2 separate regions of the Homo sapiens genome follow, and region 2 is linked to region 1. The links come from fine-mapping of genetic effects on gene expression. A gene starts in region 1. The other region holds a variant in brackets. All regions are shown on one strand. Distances are from middle to middle. Region 1 holds the start of CNTN3 (contactin 3). Region 2 has its middle 50 kb from the start of CNTN3.

Region 1 (8,409 bases):
CAGGAGTTCAAGAACAGCTTTGGCAACATGGTGAATTCCCATCTCTACAAAAAATCCAAAAATTAGCCAGGGCATGGCGGTGTGTGTCTATAGTCCCAGCTACTCAGGAGACTAAGGTGGGAGAATCACTTAGCCCAGGAGGTCGAGGTTCCAGTGAACCATGATCGCACCACTGCACTCCAGCCTGGGTGACAGAGTGAGACCCTGTCGAAAAAAACAAAAATGAAAAAAAAAACCCTGTGAGTTTGTGTGTGTGCACACGTGTGTGCGTATGTGTGTTTAGGCGTTAGGGCTGGACAGGGCTACTGGGCAAAAGAACAGAATGATCCCTAACATAGGAAAGAGCTCAACACATCTGCAGAAATGAAAAAGGGTCTAAGAAGCTCTTGTTCCTAAAAGCTTGCTAGGAATTGTCAAAGGGACAGTAGTGTTTAAATCCCACACAGCCTTGCAGGTAATATTTAATAGTTTGGATTTTATTCTGAGTTCAATGAAAAGCCATTTAAGCATTCTGAGTAGATGAGTACTAATTTAACTTACATTAAAAAAAAAAGAAGTCTTGGCTGCTATGCAGGATGATTTGGGGGAAGAAGTACGAAAGGAGCCAAGGAAGCCAGTGTAGTTATCCCAGGAGAGAAGATGGGGACTTGGAGAAGGAGGACGTGGGTGAACATGGAGGGAAGTGGGCGAATGTGAGAGATATTTCAGGGTTAGAACCAAAAGGACATATAAGGTCTGAGTTGTACTAGTTCCCCAAAATAAAAGCACTTGAAGTATTGTGATGGTGTCAAGATTTACCCTATTAAAACAGTATACTGACAGCCTCATTTATCAGTAATATAATCAAGCAGTTTTGAAATATGGATCTCATATCTTAACATCTGAAAGGTAATCAAAGTCAAGGGACTTAAAAAACAAATGGGACAAAATTGTTCTCTTGTTTTAGAACATAGGAAATTTACAAGCTGAGTTATAAAGGCACCTAAGAGAATGCTATGGAATCACTACAACATAGATAATCTATGTCTTCAAATGCCAATAGGTCTGCAACAAGAAATATGCAAACTCACTGAATTATTTTATCCTACTTAAGAAAATAGTCATTTTTCCTCATTCCTTGCAAGGCAGGTTCTTGCACAGTAAAGATTCTACAAATATTTACATTCCAAGTAGCAAAGCTGTTTGAAATGCTATAAAGTTCTGCCAGCACTTCTATTACAAACCCTTATTTCTTGTTTATAACATGTACATAAAAGGGGGAAAATAAAAATGTACTATGGATTGAAACTTGGCATACAAAGTTTCAACCAGGGAGTGCATTTCTCCTGCAGCAATTTTTCCAAAGAAATGTCCCACTGTGTTTAAGAGATGAGTGCAGGGGAGACTATAAGATAAAAACCATTTACAACACTCGATCCATTTCTGAAATGTTTATACAAATTGGATATGAGAATGAGATCTGTCACCCCTCAATTTCAAAGAAATGTTCTATCTTAAACTGTTCCGTGGCCCCATATTCTCTTGCCAACTATCTTTGCAACAATGATATTCTCCATTGCACTTTTTTCAAGCATAAGAAAGGAAACTGTCCACCAGCATTAAGTGATTAATTATATATGCATGTTAAAAGTATATGCATATGCATGTGTGCATATTAAAAACTACAAGTGAGCACCTTAAAGATGCTCACCTTCATAGAGACAAAGTACCTTGCTAAGATAAGAAGGCTTAAAGGCAGACTGGTGGTGACAACTAAATCAGAGACAGCAGGCAAACATGCACAGCATCAATAAATCCTCCTGCCATCTGAATATATTCCACTACATAAAATTAACATTAGTTTTACTGCTAACAACTTACTAACTGGTGATTGGAAACCAGTCAAAGCTTCTCTGTTTTGTAGTATTGCCACAGTATAGCGATATACAGATCTGACAGTTTGGAAGCAGCAATTATATCTATATACTATTTCAGCATGAACCATATTAAGAGTTAATGAGAACTTCAAGTTGGACACTTAAATTTTGCAGTAAAAACAAAGCTGGAAGATGTGTACTGAATGTGTGAGAAGGAGTTAGGAACTTGTAAAAGAGAAAGATGCATATTTTGCAAGCAGAGAAAAGAGGCTATTAGTTTGTAATAACTGGGCATATATGAAATGTGACAGTGATAAAATTGAACATAAATCAGCAAAGGAAAGGCTACAGCTTGTTGTCCACGGCTAATCTTCTCTCTACTTGAAAGTGCTCAGCACTTTGCTCCTATTAAATGCTTTGTTGCCATTTTAAGGTACACTTGGGCTATCTGGTTGTGTTGTGAAGAATATTTAAAAGTTAGAGTTCTCCTGGAGAAATGAACTTAACATCTTCATGTCTTCGGGCTGACATTAATGACATCCAGACAGTGAGGAGGACATGAGGCTGAATGTTATTGTCTGTGGCGGCCACAGCCTGAATCTATTACCCTGCATATCAATTAGACACTCGGTGTCTCGGTTATCCTACTTTTAGACAGAAGGGCCACTTGCATGCATTCAGCCTTACTATTCATCTTATAAAAGTGTACAGCAATTTGCTATATTTCCCTGGTGGATACTGATCATTTTGGGGGTCCTCAAACCACATGTTTACTCTCAACTAATTTCAAGCAAGTATTCAAAGACCAATAATTCCCAACCCCACTCTTTATTATTTGCAAGCCAACATCCTTCCATTTAGTGAGGCTGAACCCGATCAGATTTCTTTAATGAACATTCACAAGGACCTCTCCCATTGCAACCAGTGACATGCACGTATTAGGCATCTTACAAATGTTGCACAAATTGATATGAATATTAACCTGCAGTCAACTTTCTCCCTAGTCCCATGACCCACAAATGGTTAAAACCATGAACCAAGATGCCAGGTTACTGCAGCCAAAGTCAGGTTACTGTTAGTAAACACATCTAGCAAAGCAAAAGTAACACATTTGACTTGATATTGAGATATAAGCTCTTTCAAAGGCAATTACTCCTCCTTTCAATCTCTGAAGGGCTCTGACTCATTGTTCTGATTAATTCCTGTTTTTAATCTATTTACAGATCAGGATTCTTTTTCAGCTAGTGTGATATTCATCTCTGTGGGGGTAGACAGAAACCACAGCACGTACAGTCTTCCTACTTTTTTTTTTTTTTTTTTAGTTATTCTTGCTTAATCATTTTAAAATTATTTCTGGATTTACCTACTCACCATATGAGCTGGGGTTTCTGACCTCCCTCCTGCACATCACGCCCTCCTTGTCTGTTGCTTTTTCTAGCTCTGTTTCCCTGCATCTTGGGTTGAGGTTAGCAGACTGGCTACCCCTTTCCCAGAGCTCTGTTCCCCTTTCTTTGCCTCTGAAAGGAGGTTTGCTGTCCTTACCGTAGCGGACACCGTTTGTTATTAAATAATACCTCTGGACACATCTCCTTGTTGTAAATCAATAAGCAAATGCAATACAGGGAAAGACATACGGATTGGAGAGTTGTACGGAGCTTTGCACAAGCAGAGCCCAGAAGCTGTTCGTTCATTTCACGCGACCAGAAAAAATTCCTGATGGTGCTATGACCCCGGTGCCCGGTTGGCACTTCCTGGTTTTCTGTTTCTGCTATTCTGTTACCTGCTTGGTTAGCTTTGCAGGCTCCTCAGAGAACACAGAAACAGCTGAAACCAGGGTCCGAGCTCAGGAAACCTGGACTACAGCGCAGCAGGGTAAACCTGACAAATAAACGCGACGGGGAACTCCGTCCCAAGCTGCTGATCTGTGAGTAGAAAGAAAATGCAGCTTAGAAAACTTGATCGCTAATGAAAGAATCGGCCACCCTAGCTTTCTCAGACCTGGGAATCTGGGCCTGGGGGGTGGTTCCAGCAAAGAGGTATCACATTCCCACATTCTGCATCATGCACCTGGAATTGTTCCTCAGCATCCCTAGGAGTCACAACTTTTTTCCCCCAACTTTAACTGGTCAAATCCACTGCGCGAAGGGCAAGCCCAAGGGACCTACCACTCAATTTTCAGCGCTCCAGCTGGGGATGCAGCCTTCCCAACCCGAAACCAATCCTCGCCCCAGAAGGGGAAAAATAATCTCCCCAGAGCAAGTCCGATGAGAGAAGCATCTTTTATTCTCGACCCGTCAGGTGCATTTCCCTGCAAACAAACTTCGGGGCTGAGGAGCCATGAAGCCAGGGCGTAAAGTTTGCCCTGGCAGGTGGCTCATCCCTGTGGCCCGGCCGGCGCCAGGAGTCGGGCATCCCGGACTTACCTGGTCTCTGCAGCTCGCCAGACGCCCGCCCCGACGGCCCACTCGCCGCCGCCGCCGCCGCCGCCGCCGCCGCCACCGCCGCCGCCGCAGTTAGTCCGGGCCCGGGGGGCCGCCGTGCGCGCCCGCGTAAGCCGCCGCCGCCGCAGGCGCAGCACCCTCGTCCGCACGGTTCCCGGCCCAGTCCACGGCGCCAGCCCGCCCGCCGCTGCCACCGCCGCCGCCGCCAAGCGCCAGGCTGCTGTGGCTGCTGCCGGCGCCTAGCGAGCACTGCCCGTGCCTCCGCCACTCCGGCTCCGGCTCCGGCTCCGACGCGGACGCTGGAGGGAGGGGAGACCGGGCGGACTGGAGGGAGGGAGGGGCGGGGAGCGCGGCGGAGCAGCCAACTGGGTCCCGAGCCTCGCGTCTGCGGCGCCCCCAGCGCCTCTGCGCCGGCCGGACCCCGCGCGGCCCTGCGCTCGGCCGCGTGCACCCACGTGTGTCCGGCCTCCGCAGGGCCCTGGGCGGCGGCGCGGGCTGGGCGGCGGTCACCGTGTCACCTCCGGGTGGCCTCGTGCCACGCAGTTAGGGCCCTCGGAACACGGGGTTAAGGCAGGAATTCCACTTCTAGAAAAGCCTCCTGCAGCTGCGCTCCCACAAGTGCGCAAAGATTGCCAATTTTAATATTAAAGCGGATAATTATTAAGGGCTCACTAGGTAGCAGGTCGTGGACTGCGCTAAATCAATTAGTTCATGCAGTCCCCAGAGCAACCTGGATCTATTATTATTCCCGGATTTAGTGATGAGGAAATTGGTTTGCTTAAAGTTTCAATGAGTCAGTTGTGAGAATAATCGCAACTATATTCTGTCAAGGACCCTGTGAAGTAGATCTTACCACCTTTATTTGCCCAAGTATACACACAGTGGTGGGTTGGAGAACCCGGACTTGAATAAGCCTGTTGCAGTCCTGAGCCTTTGCGCTGAACCGCTGGTGACTTACTTCCAGTCAAACCCGTGCAAACACTGCAACTTTAGTTGTACGAAAAACAGTTGGGAACAACCTACCTGTCCTTCATTAGGAGAGTGGCTGATAAAATACAGTGGAGACATACAGCGGCAGAGAGAAAGGTGCATCTACTAGTATTGGCATAAATGACCTCCAAGAGGTATCCTTAGAGGCTGGGCGGAGGTGGGTCACTCCTGTAATCCCAGCACTTTGAGAAGCCAAGACAGGTGGATCTCTTGAGCCCAGGAGTTTGAGACCAGCCTGGGCAACATAGGGAGACTTTGTCTCTGCAAAAAACAAACAAACAAAAAGTTTAAATTAGGTGGGCGTCATGGCACGCACCTGTTGTCCCAACTACTTGAGAGGTTGAGGTGGGAGGAGCACTTGAGGGATCACTCGAGCTCAGGAGGTGGAAGCTGCAGTGAGCCATGATTGTGCCACAGCACTCCAGACCAAAAGACTGAGGGAGACCCTGTCTCTAAATAAATAAAAAAATAAATAAACGGTATTGTTAGGAGAACTTGGGACATGTACTGTTGATCGGCACAGGAAAGTTGGTACCTGTACCGTTTTTGTGCTTACAAGCACTTACACACACACACACACACACACACACACACACACACGCACGCACCCTTTTGTGTGTATGTATCCATATTTATGCATTCACAATTTCTGAAAGGATGTCTAAGGATACTGTTAACAATTGTTAGTCCTAGTGAGTGAGACTGAAATTGGAGCAGAGGAGACTTTATACTTTTCATTTTATAATTCTCTGACATTGTTTTTAAAATGTATCACGTTGTCCCTTCATATTAAATAATCTAGTCACATTTAATTAGACTTGACAGTTTATGGCCCTGTTTCCTCTCCTTGATCCTCTCCCTGTGATTCCTGCAGATGGAATGAAGCAACACCTCATCAAGAGAAGCAACCTGGGCAAACCAGGCCTGGTTTAACTGCACTTTCTCACGTTTGATCATTTTCTCAAGAGATACGTGCGTGGTCCTCTGCAATTCAGAATGAAATCTGAACTTCTGGAAAAACTCTCCTAGAGGGGGTTTGAGGACAAGAGGTAAGACCCAGGTCAGTCAGATGCAAGGTGCCGCTCCCTACAGCAAAGTCAGCATGTAGGCCCCCTGCATTTCCAATTGCCACAAAGAAGTTGCTTGGTACTTTGGAAGACTGAGGTGGGAGAATCCCTTGAGCCCTGGAGTTTGAGACCAGCCTGGGCAATACAGTGAGACCGCCTCTCAACAAAAAATTTAAAAATTAGCTGAGCATGATGGTGTGTGTCTGCAGTCCCAGCTGCTTGGGAGGCTGTGGCAGGAGGAGATCGCTTGAGCCTGGGAGGTCCAGGCTGCAGTGGGCCATGATTGAACCACTGCACTCCAGCCTGGGTGACAGAGCAAGACCCTATCTCAAAACAGAACAACAACAATAACAAAAAAAGAAATTGCATGAATGGCTTGACCAGGTGATTTTTCCCTAGTCCCCCTTACTCTATGAGCATACAACAGGATTCTTGAATACATTAGGGAACTTCTGGCCACATTTGCCCTCTCTCACTTTATCAGGAAACTGCTCATCCCTACAAGAGTAATAGCTGGATTACAAAAAATTCCGGGGTTATTTATGTTTTAAAAAGAGGTTGGGGGAGACAGGAATAGATAGAGCACGCTGCTATAAATAAAAATCATGTGCTTTTTCCCCATCAGAATTAAATTGCAGTAAATTTGGACTCCTTAAGCTTCCTCTACTTAGCCAAAGGAAAAAGAAATAGAACAGGTACAGAAAGGTTGTTTATGGTTGTTTCAGTTGTTACTGGTTACTGTAAATAATCTTTTTGCTTGCAATCTGGGAACATGTTGGCAAACCCCCTGCAGGTGACAAAATGTTTTATTGGGTAGAACTGGTGTGTTCTGGAAGGAGCCGAGAGAACTTTACATGCAAATTATGCCCATGCCTTGCCCCTAGCAGGTGCAATTACTGCCATGCCCACATCCATCACAGGCATGGCTCTTCTTTTAATATTTTCAACTTGATGTCTCCTAATACATTTTTCTTCTAATACATACATATATACCTTGTCTAATGGGAAGGGAAAGAGCATTTTCATCAAGGAGGGGGAGCTGGCCACAGGCAGCAAAATGACAGGGAGAAAGACAGGAAAGAAGCTCCTTTAAATTAGAAAGAAATCTAAACCCTAACCCCTTCCAGCCCTCTCCAAATAATTAGTCATTTCTAAACTCAGATTACATTGCCTGTGCTAGTAAAAGCTGATTAGTGCTGGAAAGGGATTTAATGGAATTTTGAGTCTTATGGTTGCAGTGGGGGGGTTGGTGGGGGCTGGCAGATCCTAAAAATTGTAGAAATAATGATGAACATTTAATATAAGCCACAGTCTCATAGACAGGTAAAAGGTGTATAAATATATGTATATAGAGAGACGTGAATCATTTTATACCCTCCCTTTGCCCAAAATGTAAAGCATAATGTGAGTCAACTGAAAGCCTGGTATTTACCAAAAGTTGATACACAAGGGCAGTTTTCAATACAATTTCCATCCAATTTCTGGGCCGGAAGCCCAGGAAATTAAAAAAAAATTAAAGGCACATGTGGGTCTTCTCAGTGTGAATGCCGGATGGAATTTTTATTGAATTTGGCCTCAACTGATTGTAGCATTATAAGCAATTCTGCAGTTAAGTTTCAGCAGCCATTTAGATGGCAAATCCCTTTTTTAGGGTATTATAACTAATAATAATAACTTCCTTTTTATATGGCACCTTTTATATCAAGCACTTTAAAGTGTGAGATCATCTTCCCATTATTAAGATACCCCATCTGTGTTGGAATATAGAAGCTATTTCATGCCAGTGACACCACATAACAGTTATTTGTTTGCATGTTTATTGTGTAGCAAAGGGAAATGAAGAAAAATATCTACTAAACCCAAAGACTGAAATTCTTAGGTAAAAGTATAAATTGGAATATAGCCAAGCTACTAAGTTAAACACATCTTTTTCTATAAAAGGGGTTAGGGAGTCTTAATTTCCACATATGGAAATAGAAGTCTTATTGTTATCACCATGGTACTGATCCAAAGTTCTAGTTTATATCTAGATGCTGTGATTAAATTGTAGGGTGT
Region 2 (8,409 bases), 50 kb after region 1:
AATATTTTTGGCTTCTACTTTCCCTAGGGGAATAATGTCACACATAAAATCTTTATTTTTGACCTGGAATAGTTACACTATCAAAGAACCTACAAACCTCTGCATGTGGAGGTAGGGGTCATAACAACAATCTCTTGGGTTCTCTTACTTTTGTATATACATATATGTATTTAGACAGGGTCTCACTCTGTTGCCCAGACTGAAATGCAGTGGTGTGATCACAGCTCACTGCAGACTCAATCTTTGGGGGTCCAGCAATCCTCCCACTTCAGCCTCCCGAGTAGCTGGGAACACCGATGCATGCCAACATCATACCCCACTAATCCTTTTTTTTTTTTTTTTTTTTTTTTTTTTTCTGTAGAGACAGGGTTTCACTTTGTTTCCAAAGCTGGCCTTGAAATTCTGGGCTTAAGCAATCCTCCAGCTTCTGCCTCCCAAAGTACAGGGATTACAGGTGTGAGTCACCTGGCTGGCCAGGTTTCATTACTTTTGTATAATTATTCTTGAGAACAGTATTTAAATTATTTGTGTCTGCTCTTAGAACACTGACTTCATATGACACTATTAGTTTGGAGAACAAAAAAAGTATCTGGTCTTAGGAAAGCAAAGACAACAATTCTGCTTGGATGGACTACACCTTACTGTCTCCAACTCTGACAGCAGCCATAGTAACAAAAGAGAGTATTCACTATGTGCCAGACATTATGCTAGCTATGTTACATAATTAAATTATGTAATCTTCATCACATCTGAATTTTATAAATAAAGAACTGTTAAATAGCCGCCTTGAGATCATAAGGCTAGAAGACGTCAGACATGGAGCTCAAACCATATCTGTCTGACCATTCTGGAATCCCAGTCCATGTACTTAGTGGCTTTACAATACTGTTCTTCATTGTTGCCGTATGTTCTCCTTCTTGGCACTAAGATGATAGTTCTGATTAAAGAGCAAATTTTCAAATCTTAGATATGCTGAAGACCTTTGAACTCTTTTTGAATAACTTATCTTGCAGATGAAACAGGAGGGCTACATGGGGTTAAGGCTGTTGATTAAGGTCACAGAGGTAGCTATTTGCAGAATTAGCACAGACTTAAGCCTGCTAAGCAATGTGGCTGTTTAGATTTATAGGAGCAAAGGAAAAGATGATCAGTCTACAGCTTCCTGGTATATTTTCATTCATTTATTCCTACATTAATTCATTCAGCTGATATTGGAGAATATCCTACATTTCCAGCCCTCAGTTGGGTCATAAGGACACCACTCTAATCCGGCATGGTCTCTACACTTACGGGCAGTTATTAATTGTGGCATAAATTTAGTTACTTCTTCAAAACTTTGAGGTGTTTTCTCTCTTTTGAGCCTTTGAGACTTTAAAATAAATGCTACTTGGTGTTAGCACCTTTCTATCCTAAAATCACCTCACTTCTCCATGCTCAGAAGAGCACAAATTCTTCCTAGTAACCAGGAAGTGATAGAATTTATATTCTGTATCTGACCTAGTTACAATCCCTGACACTTCCTGTTTTCTCTAAAGGGTTGATTTATTGTTGCACAACAGATCTTTATACATTTCTTCAGTCACAAGATATGCACTGGTGGCTACTCATGCACTTGTTGTTTGAAGACATTGGTTTCCAAATTCTTTTAATGCTGAACCATCTATCTTGAATGCTTGGATTAAACAAACATGATTCCTTTTTGCTATCAGATACCCCATTTATAAGGGTAATTTCATGCCATTTACACAAGAAAAGCATGGCATGTGCTTTTCACATAAAGAATTATGTTTTGTTCTTAGTACTCTAGAGATTGTGAAAAATATACTCTAGTGCTTTGGAGGATTTTCCGCTGGAAATCATTGAATCTTAATCTACTTTCTAAAATTTGTCTTATTATTTTTGACGATATCCATTCAAAATAGGTTTCTGCCTGTTTTCTGCAAGGGAAAAAAACAAATAATTCTCCAAACTAATACACACACTATATATTATATATAATGTATACATTTTATGTTATGTAATATATACATTATATATGTGCACAAATATGCAATATGTAAATATGTGTGTATATATACACATGAAAAACATAAAGGAAGGCAATTATTAACATTTAGTGTATTATTAATCTCTTCCAGAGTTTTGGAACCATGCCTCAATTACATAAAATCATGTATGTGATATCTATTATAACACCTTACATCTATCTACATGGAGCATAATTTATTCTTCATAAATATTTAGTCATTTGAATTGAGAAGTGAAGCATACAACATAATGGATGCCATTGGTTTCCCACCTAGATTCTGCTTTTACAGCCAAGTGCACCCATTTAACAGCTACTGTGAATGGTGGCAACTAACAGCTGGCAGCTACGCCCTTCTCCAAAGACACTGCTTCAGTTGATAGAAACTACATCCAGAGCCCACTGTGGACCAGGTCAAGCCTAGACTTAACTGAGACCACCTCCTGCTCATCTCCTTTATCTGCCCCATTCTTGCTCCCCTCACTCTTTTTGATAGCTTAGTCATATTGGGAATACAAAGCTTTTACGTTTTTTCTTTAGGTTAGGTCTTAGAAGACAATAAATAATGTAGCTGAGTATGAGAGGACATATATTTTTTCCCCAGGTTCTTGGGGACAGAGAGCTTTGAGATTTGAGTAGAAAATGTGCTCAGTGGCTGAATATTGGAAAGGGCCACTCCAGTAGCATGATCAAATTTCTAAATTGACCACAGTGATTGATCATATTTACAAAATTTATGATAATGTTTTTCTCCCCAGTTTTCTTGACTTCCTTCATTCTCTTTTCAGGTGCAAATGAGGCATTCTTTAATAAAGGACAAATCATCCTTGCAGAAGTTTTCCAAATAATATATGTAGATATTTTCCCTTCCAGGAAGTGGAGATTAATTCTCCACTACGAGTTAGACCTGGTATCTCTTTTCCAAAGAATAGGTTATGAACAGGAAAAAAGAATAGCTTTACAATGATGAAACCTGACAAATAATACTTTGACCGAATGATCAAGGTTAACATACTCTGTGTAACTTAAATTGATATTATGTACCCCATGATGTAATGTCATGAGTTGGGCACTTCACCTCTCTGGCATTCTTCTTCGGAACCAATAACCCAGCCTAATCCTTTGAAGACACCAGACAAACCAAATTAAGGGACATTCTACCAAAAATCTAATATTCTTCAAAACTGTCAATATCAAGGAAAACAAGAAAAGATTGGCAAACTGCCACAGATTAGAGAAGACTAAACATAATGCAGTATTCTGGATTGGAGCCTAGTACATAAAGAGCTCATTAGTGGAAAAGCTCCTGATATCCAAATACAGTTTGAGGTTAAATTGTAATAGTGTTGAGCCAATGTTAATTTCTTAATTTTG[G/A]CAAATGTTCTATACTTGCTATTATTCAAGATAACATTAGGGAAACTGGATGAAGGTTATTCAGAAAATTGCTCTACTATCTTTGCAACTTTCCTGAGAATCCAAAATTACTTTCAAATAAAAAGTTGTATTATATATAGAGAAACATTGCCTCAGTATAGATACTTTTATAGCTAAAAGTCAATAATTGAATGAAAAAAGCAGAACTAATGCAATGGATTAATCTTATTTTGGCTTTTGATATAGAAACACCAACATGAGGACTACTGCATAAATTTGGAAAAAAATTAATCATTCAAATCTTTCAAATCATTTAATCCTCCAAGATAAATTTTGAGATCGTACTATGTGCTAGACACTGGAAATAAACAGCCATTTACCTACATTATATAATATGTGCTCTAGAGACTGGCTGTTGGAGCCCAATCCTTCTGTGCCTCAGTTTATTTAACTGTAAAATGGGGGTAATAAGAATGATAGTTTATAGAGTTGTGGAGATTAATTGAGACAATGATCATACAGCAGGAGATATAGAACTATGAGCCGTATGTTACGTACTATATTATTATTATTACAAGCATCAGATACATGAATCTGGTATTATCAGCACTATCATCATTAACTACCCCTCCTTTGCTTTAGTTCTGTCAACTTTCTATGTTATAACATATATACATATATATATGTTTATATATATATGCTTGCCTTCTTCTAATATACAAATCAGTAAACAGCATGAACATAATTTAACAGAATTTGAATCATTAAGAAGGGCAACATATTTTGAATCTTTAAATGGTACCATTTAAAGTTCCATTGTAGTCATTTATAATACTAGTTCGGAGCTTTTTATTATGACCATTTCAGAAACAAATTGAGGCCATGTATGGAAACTACATTTTAGAAATATATTAAAATGGATGAATAAATTAAGTTAGGAGATTATACAAACAGATAACATTTATGCTAAGGAGCTAAAATCATACTGGCACACAATCGAAGCCAGCTCCCTTTTTCTGGCTGCAATACAGAAAGGACCGTTTTCCCAGTCTTGTTTCTTGCATTTCACCCTTTACAGCCAGAACCAGATAAAACTACTTTGGGCCATTTGTTTACTGACATTAAAGTGGATTTATGGAGACCGAAAGTCTTTCTATTGTCCCTTCTGGGCTGAATCAAATTTATTTAAATGGTAATTCACTCACATATTTCTAATCCCCTTTGAATGCTTCCTTTGTTTATAATAACCACAGATATTAAGGATTTAGAAAATCAGTTCACAAATATTATTGAACATATTGAGTAATAAAAGCCTCATTCTGATACTTAGTAAATTAGACATTCCTGAAGAAAATGGAATATTTCCATTTTCAAACTAAAGATTTACTATATTAGACAAAGGATTTAAACATAATCTTATATGTAAAATTAATCACTAATTCTGGGATATAGTTAATAACTACTCTTGGAAAATAGAGTCTATTATCATAACTTCCCAAAAGTCATTTCCGTTGTGTTATCCCAACCACTGCCTTTTTTTTTAGTTAAAAATTTTCCACTGGCAATACTTATTTTTTTCTTTTCATTTGGGTCTTTTAGCTCTGGTCTTATTAGTTTATTAACATATCTCTTATTTTTAAGGATACTTTTAAAATAAAATTATTGGATTTAGTTTGACAACTGTGTCTATTCGTTTGGCTTATAAACTTGACAGATTTGTAAATGCCTCCAACTTCCTCTCTGTTTTAAGACATATTCTTACCAATAATACTTTCTGTAGGTTGTGTATGCCTGTGCTTCATAGTGAAACCTATAAAACTATGGTGCAACATCAACACCAGTTTATAGATACATATTTTCATTGTTCTCCTAACCAACTATTGTCAGGAATACTAAGTTGACACAACAACATTGCCAGAAAAAGTGGAAAATATACAGCACTAGATGTGCACTCGGCACATTTTTCTACATTTATCAAAATATGTTCATAGGGACCTAATTTTTTGTTTAGTTTGGTTAATAATGTTATGATCTAACACTGATGAAAATTCAGACATTCTCTGACTAGATATAAAAGCAAGCTCCAAGTATATGCTATTTTTTATGAAACAGACTTAAAATATAACAAAACAGAAGACTTGAACAACACTATTTATCAATATCATGGATCAATACTAAAGGCATTATGCTGCATACGAGGAGCCAGACTTCCCAATCATATATGAATGATTCCATTTATAAGAAGCCAAGGACAGGTTATTATAAATTTATAAATTAATTTAAAAACAAAACAAAACAAACAAACAAAAAAACCTAATGTATTCCTTACATCAGGGCTACCTCAAGTGCTTGTTGATTTCCCAGGCCACATCCTAGGTCTTTTAAATTAGAATATTTTGGAAAGAGAGCCCCCAGATCTGTATTTAACACTTTTCTCAGGTGACTCTTAAATAATCTGAAGTGTGCAAATCATTGGCCTGCAAGATATTAAGAAAGAAGGAGTGCCACATAGTAGATAGACAAATATGGGTACAGAGAGGCAAGGTGATTTTTCCAAGGTCTTGCAGTAAATGAGTTGCAATGACAGGTGTCCTGACTCCCAATCTATGGCCATTCCCATTATATTACAGGTGATTCTTAGTTTAGATACGGGGGTGAATTAAATGGATCTGTGGAATACATTGTGACACTTGCATCACAAGTGACCCTGAGCCATTTCCACTTTCACTCTGAATTCCAGGAGTAATCTCCCTATCTCTCTTTGCCAGGATTATGTAACACATCACATTCAGAATCATGTAGAAAAGTTGATATGAGACTTATCAGAAGGAAACAGATTGCTGTAGAGAGTAGAAGAAGGCAAAGATGGTGGAGACAAGAAACAGAAGAGGAGAGAAAATAGAAAGACTCTAGTTTATGGCAAAAATAGGAAACAAACATCTTTTAATTTTTAGAAAGTGATTAGTATCAGGTAATAGTGGATTCATGGGCATACACCTATTCATACCTTCATTAAACTAAAAGTTGAGAACAATAATGTTAAAGCTACAGAACTGTGGAATAATCATAATATACTGATTTTGATTCTGATAGTATTACTTTTTTATTATGTTTCTTTTCCCGAATTTTGTTATTGGCTGCTAGTCTAAATTTAGCTCTTTTCTGCTAATTGCTATTGCAAATATTCATTTACATATTGAACAACAATTTTTATCATCTCTTTAACCTGTAATTTCAGACACAAATTAAAGACAAAACTTTGGTTATTTCTCTGAGCAAGCTGAAGTCTATGAAGAATAGGTATAATTCCTTGAATTTGATAATTTCCATTCATTGAATCCATTGAATTTATAAAAAAATGAAGACTGCTTTTTACCAATGCATTCAAAGTAAACATTGCTGAAATCCACAATTCACATATAACTCTTGGAATTCTTTAAAAGATGAATAGTTTAAAATAGGTAACTGAGGGATAACCAGTTGATTGTTTTTAAAGGAGGGGGAAGTTTGCAACATATATGAACAGAAGTGCAAATTTGAAGATTTTCAAATCTTAACATTAATACTGACAATCAAATCAACTCCCAAAAACCAGAAACAAACAATAGAGTGCTCCACAATTTATAAAATTCCTTCACAGATATTATTTAAAATCATCTTAACAAAAACCATGAGATATGAGGGAGAGGTCTGAAACCACATTGTATTGTTAAGGTTATGGAGGCTTGGGTTGCCCTGATGGGGGTCAGCAATGTTAGGGCTTTCAGGTACTTAGTGGTTATTAATTATATTCCTTATATAATAGCTGAGGAGATTAAGGATTAAGGAAGAGAAATGATTTGCAGAAGGACACAAAGTCCAGAAGTCCTCGAGCTAGGATTGGAACTGTCAGAAGTAAAGCTTGGAGTTGCAAAGAAAATGAGCACTTAAACAAAGGATTTCTCAGCAAGGCAAAAGTTATTTCTGCAAAAGGGTGCTGCTCACAAGTTTGGTCACCATAAGAGCACACTGAATGAAGGAGGGAAGGGGTTTTTATCCCTAATGCGGCTTGTCCCTGCTACTGTGTCTTACCTCCACTGGCTGGAGTTGGACCACAAAATCTAAGCTGAACCTGATTGGTTAACTTGAATGGTGCAGGAATGTGGTTACACTGGCAGATAGGGCAGTTTTGTTGGGAAGAGCCGTTATGACAGGAGGGGTAATTTACAGAGTGGGTAGCAGATATGGGCCGTGTAGATAAGGATGGGCAGGAAAGGTGTTTCTGAAACTGAAACAGGGAGGCACAAAGGATAAGGAAGTTAGTTTGGCCTTCAAAGTAGGGAACAAAGAACAAGGACGCTGAACAAGCCAAACCTTTGAAGAGGAACTTCTTTTGTACCTGACTGAACCAGGTGTTGCTAGCTGGTCATGGTCACATTCCAAAGGACTATGTTGGATTTGACTGATCACAACAATCACATCGAGAGGATCAGTGTCTGATCATTCCATTTTGCGTCTTATGGGTACAGCCACAGAATTAGACTCATATTTTTTAAAATTCAATTTTACCCAATTTTTCATCCCTGGTTCTCTTGTCTGACTGGCTTTTTGCTTTGTCTTTGATTAATGTGTCACAGAGAGGTGACTGAGACCATAAAGTTGCTGATAGTAGCATAGATAAGAACGGCAGCACATTCTGGGATTTAGGAAATGTGGGCATTTTTCTCCTTTCTGCCATTAATTGGCTCTATGAACAGGAATGAGCCTCTACATTAAGGAACAATTTGTAATCTGTGTTATTTCCTTCGTATGATAGAAATTAAAAGAAACCATATGTTAATAGAGTATATAAAAATAAAAATGCCCTACATGTGCAATTTGTTTCTGTAAAATTCCACTTCTATTAGTTAGACAATAAGTAACTAAAATGAGAGTCAAATAACCTTTCTTAGGTGCATGTTGGTATATAAATATATTCTTCATTACCATCACAGAAACCAGGTTTGGAAAGAGCTTTAAATTATTTCAGT

Evidence for each region. PIP is the estimated chance that this variant, and not a neighbour inherited with it, causes the effect.
Region 2: its variant is fine-mapped to the expression of CNTN3 in spleen (GTEx, PIP 0.92).

Annotation. Positions count from the first base shown.
Region 1 is chr3:74,610,112-74,618,520 of GRCh38, forward strand. CNTN3 (contactin 3) reads right to left here and starts at 4,548. Exons shown (of 23, transcript NM_020872.3): 1 at 4,280-4,548. LOC105377166 (a long non-coding RNA gene) reads left to right here and starts at 3,692. Exons shown (of 3, transcript XR_007096257.1): 1 at 3,692-3,780; 2 at 6,162-6,336.
Region 2 is chr3:74,660,342-74,668,750 of GRCh38, forward strand. No RefSeq gene overlaps it. Among named protein-coding and RNA genes, the nearest start is that of CNTN3, 50 kb to the left of the region's middle. The variant G/A (reference allele first, on the strand shown) is at 3,401.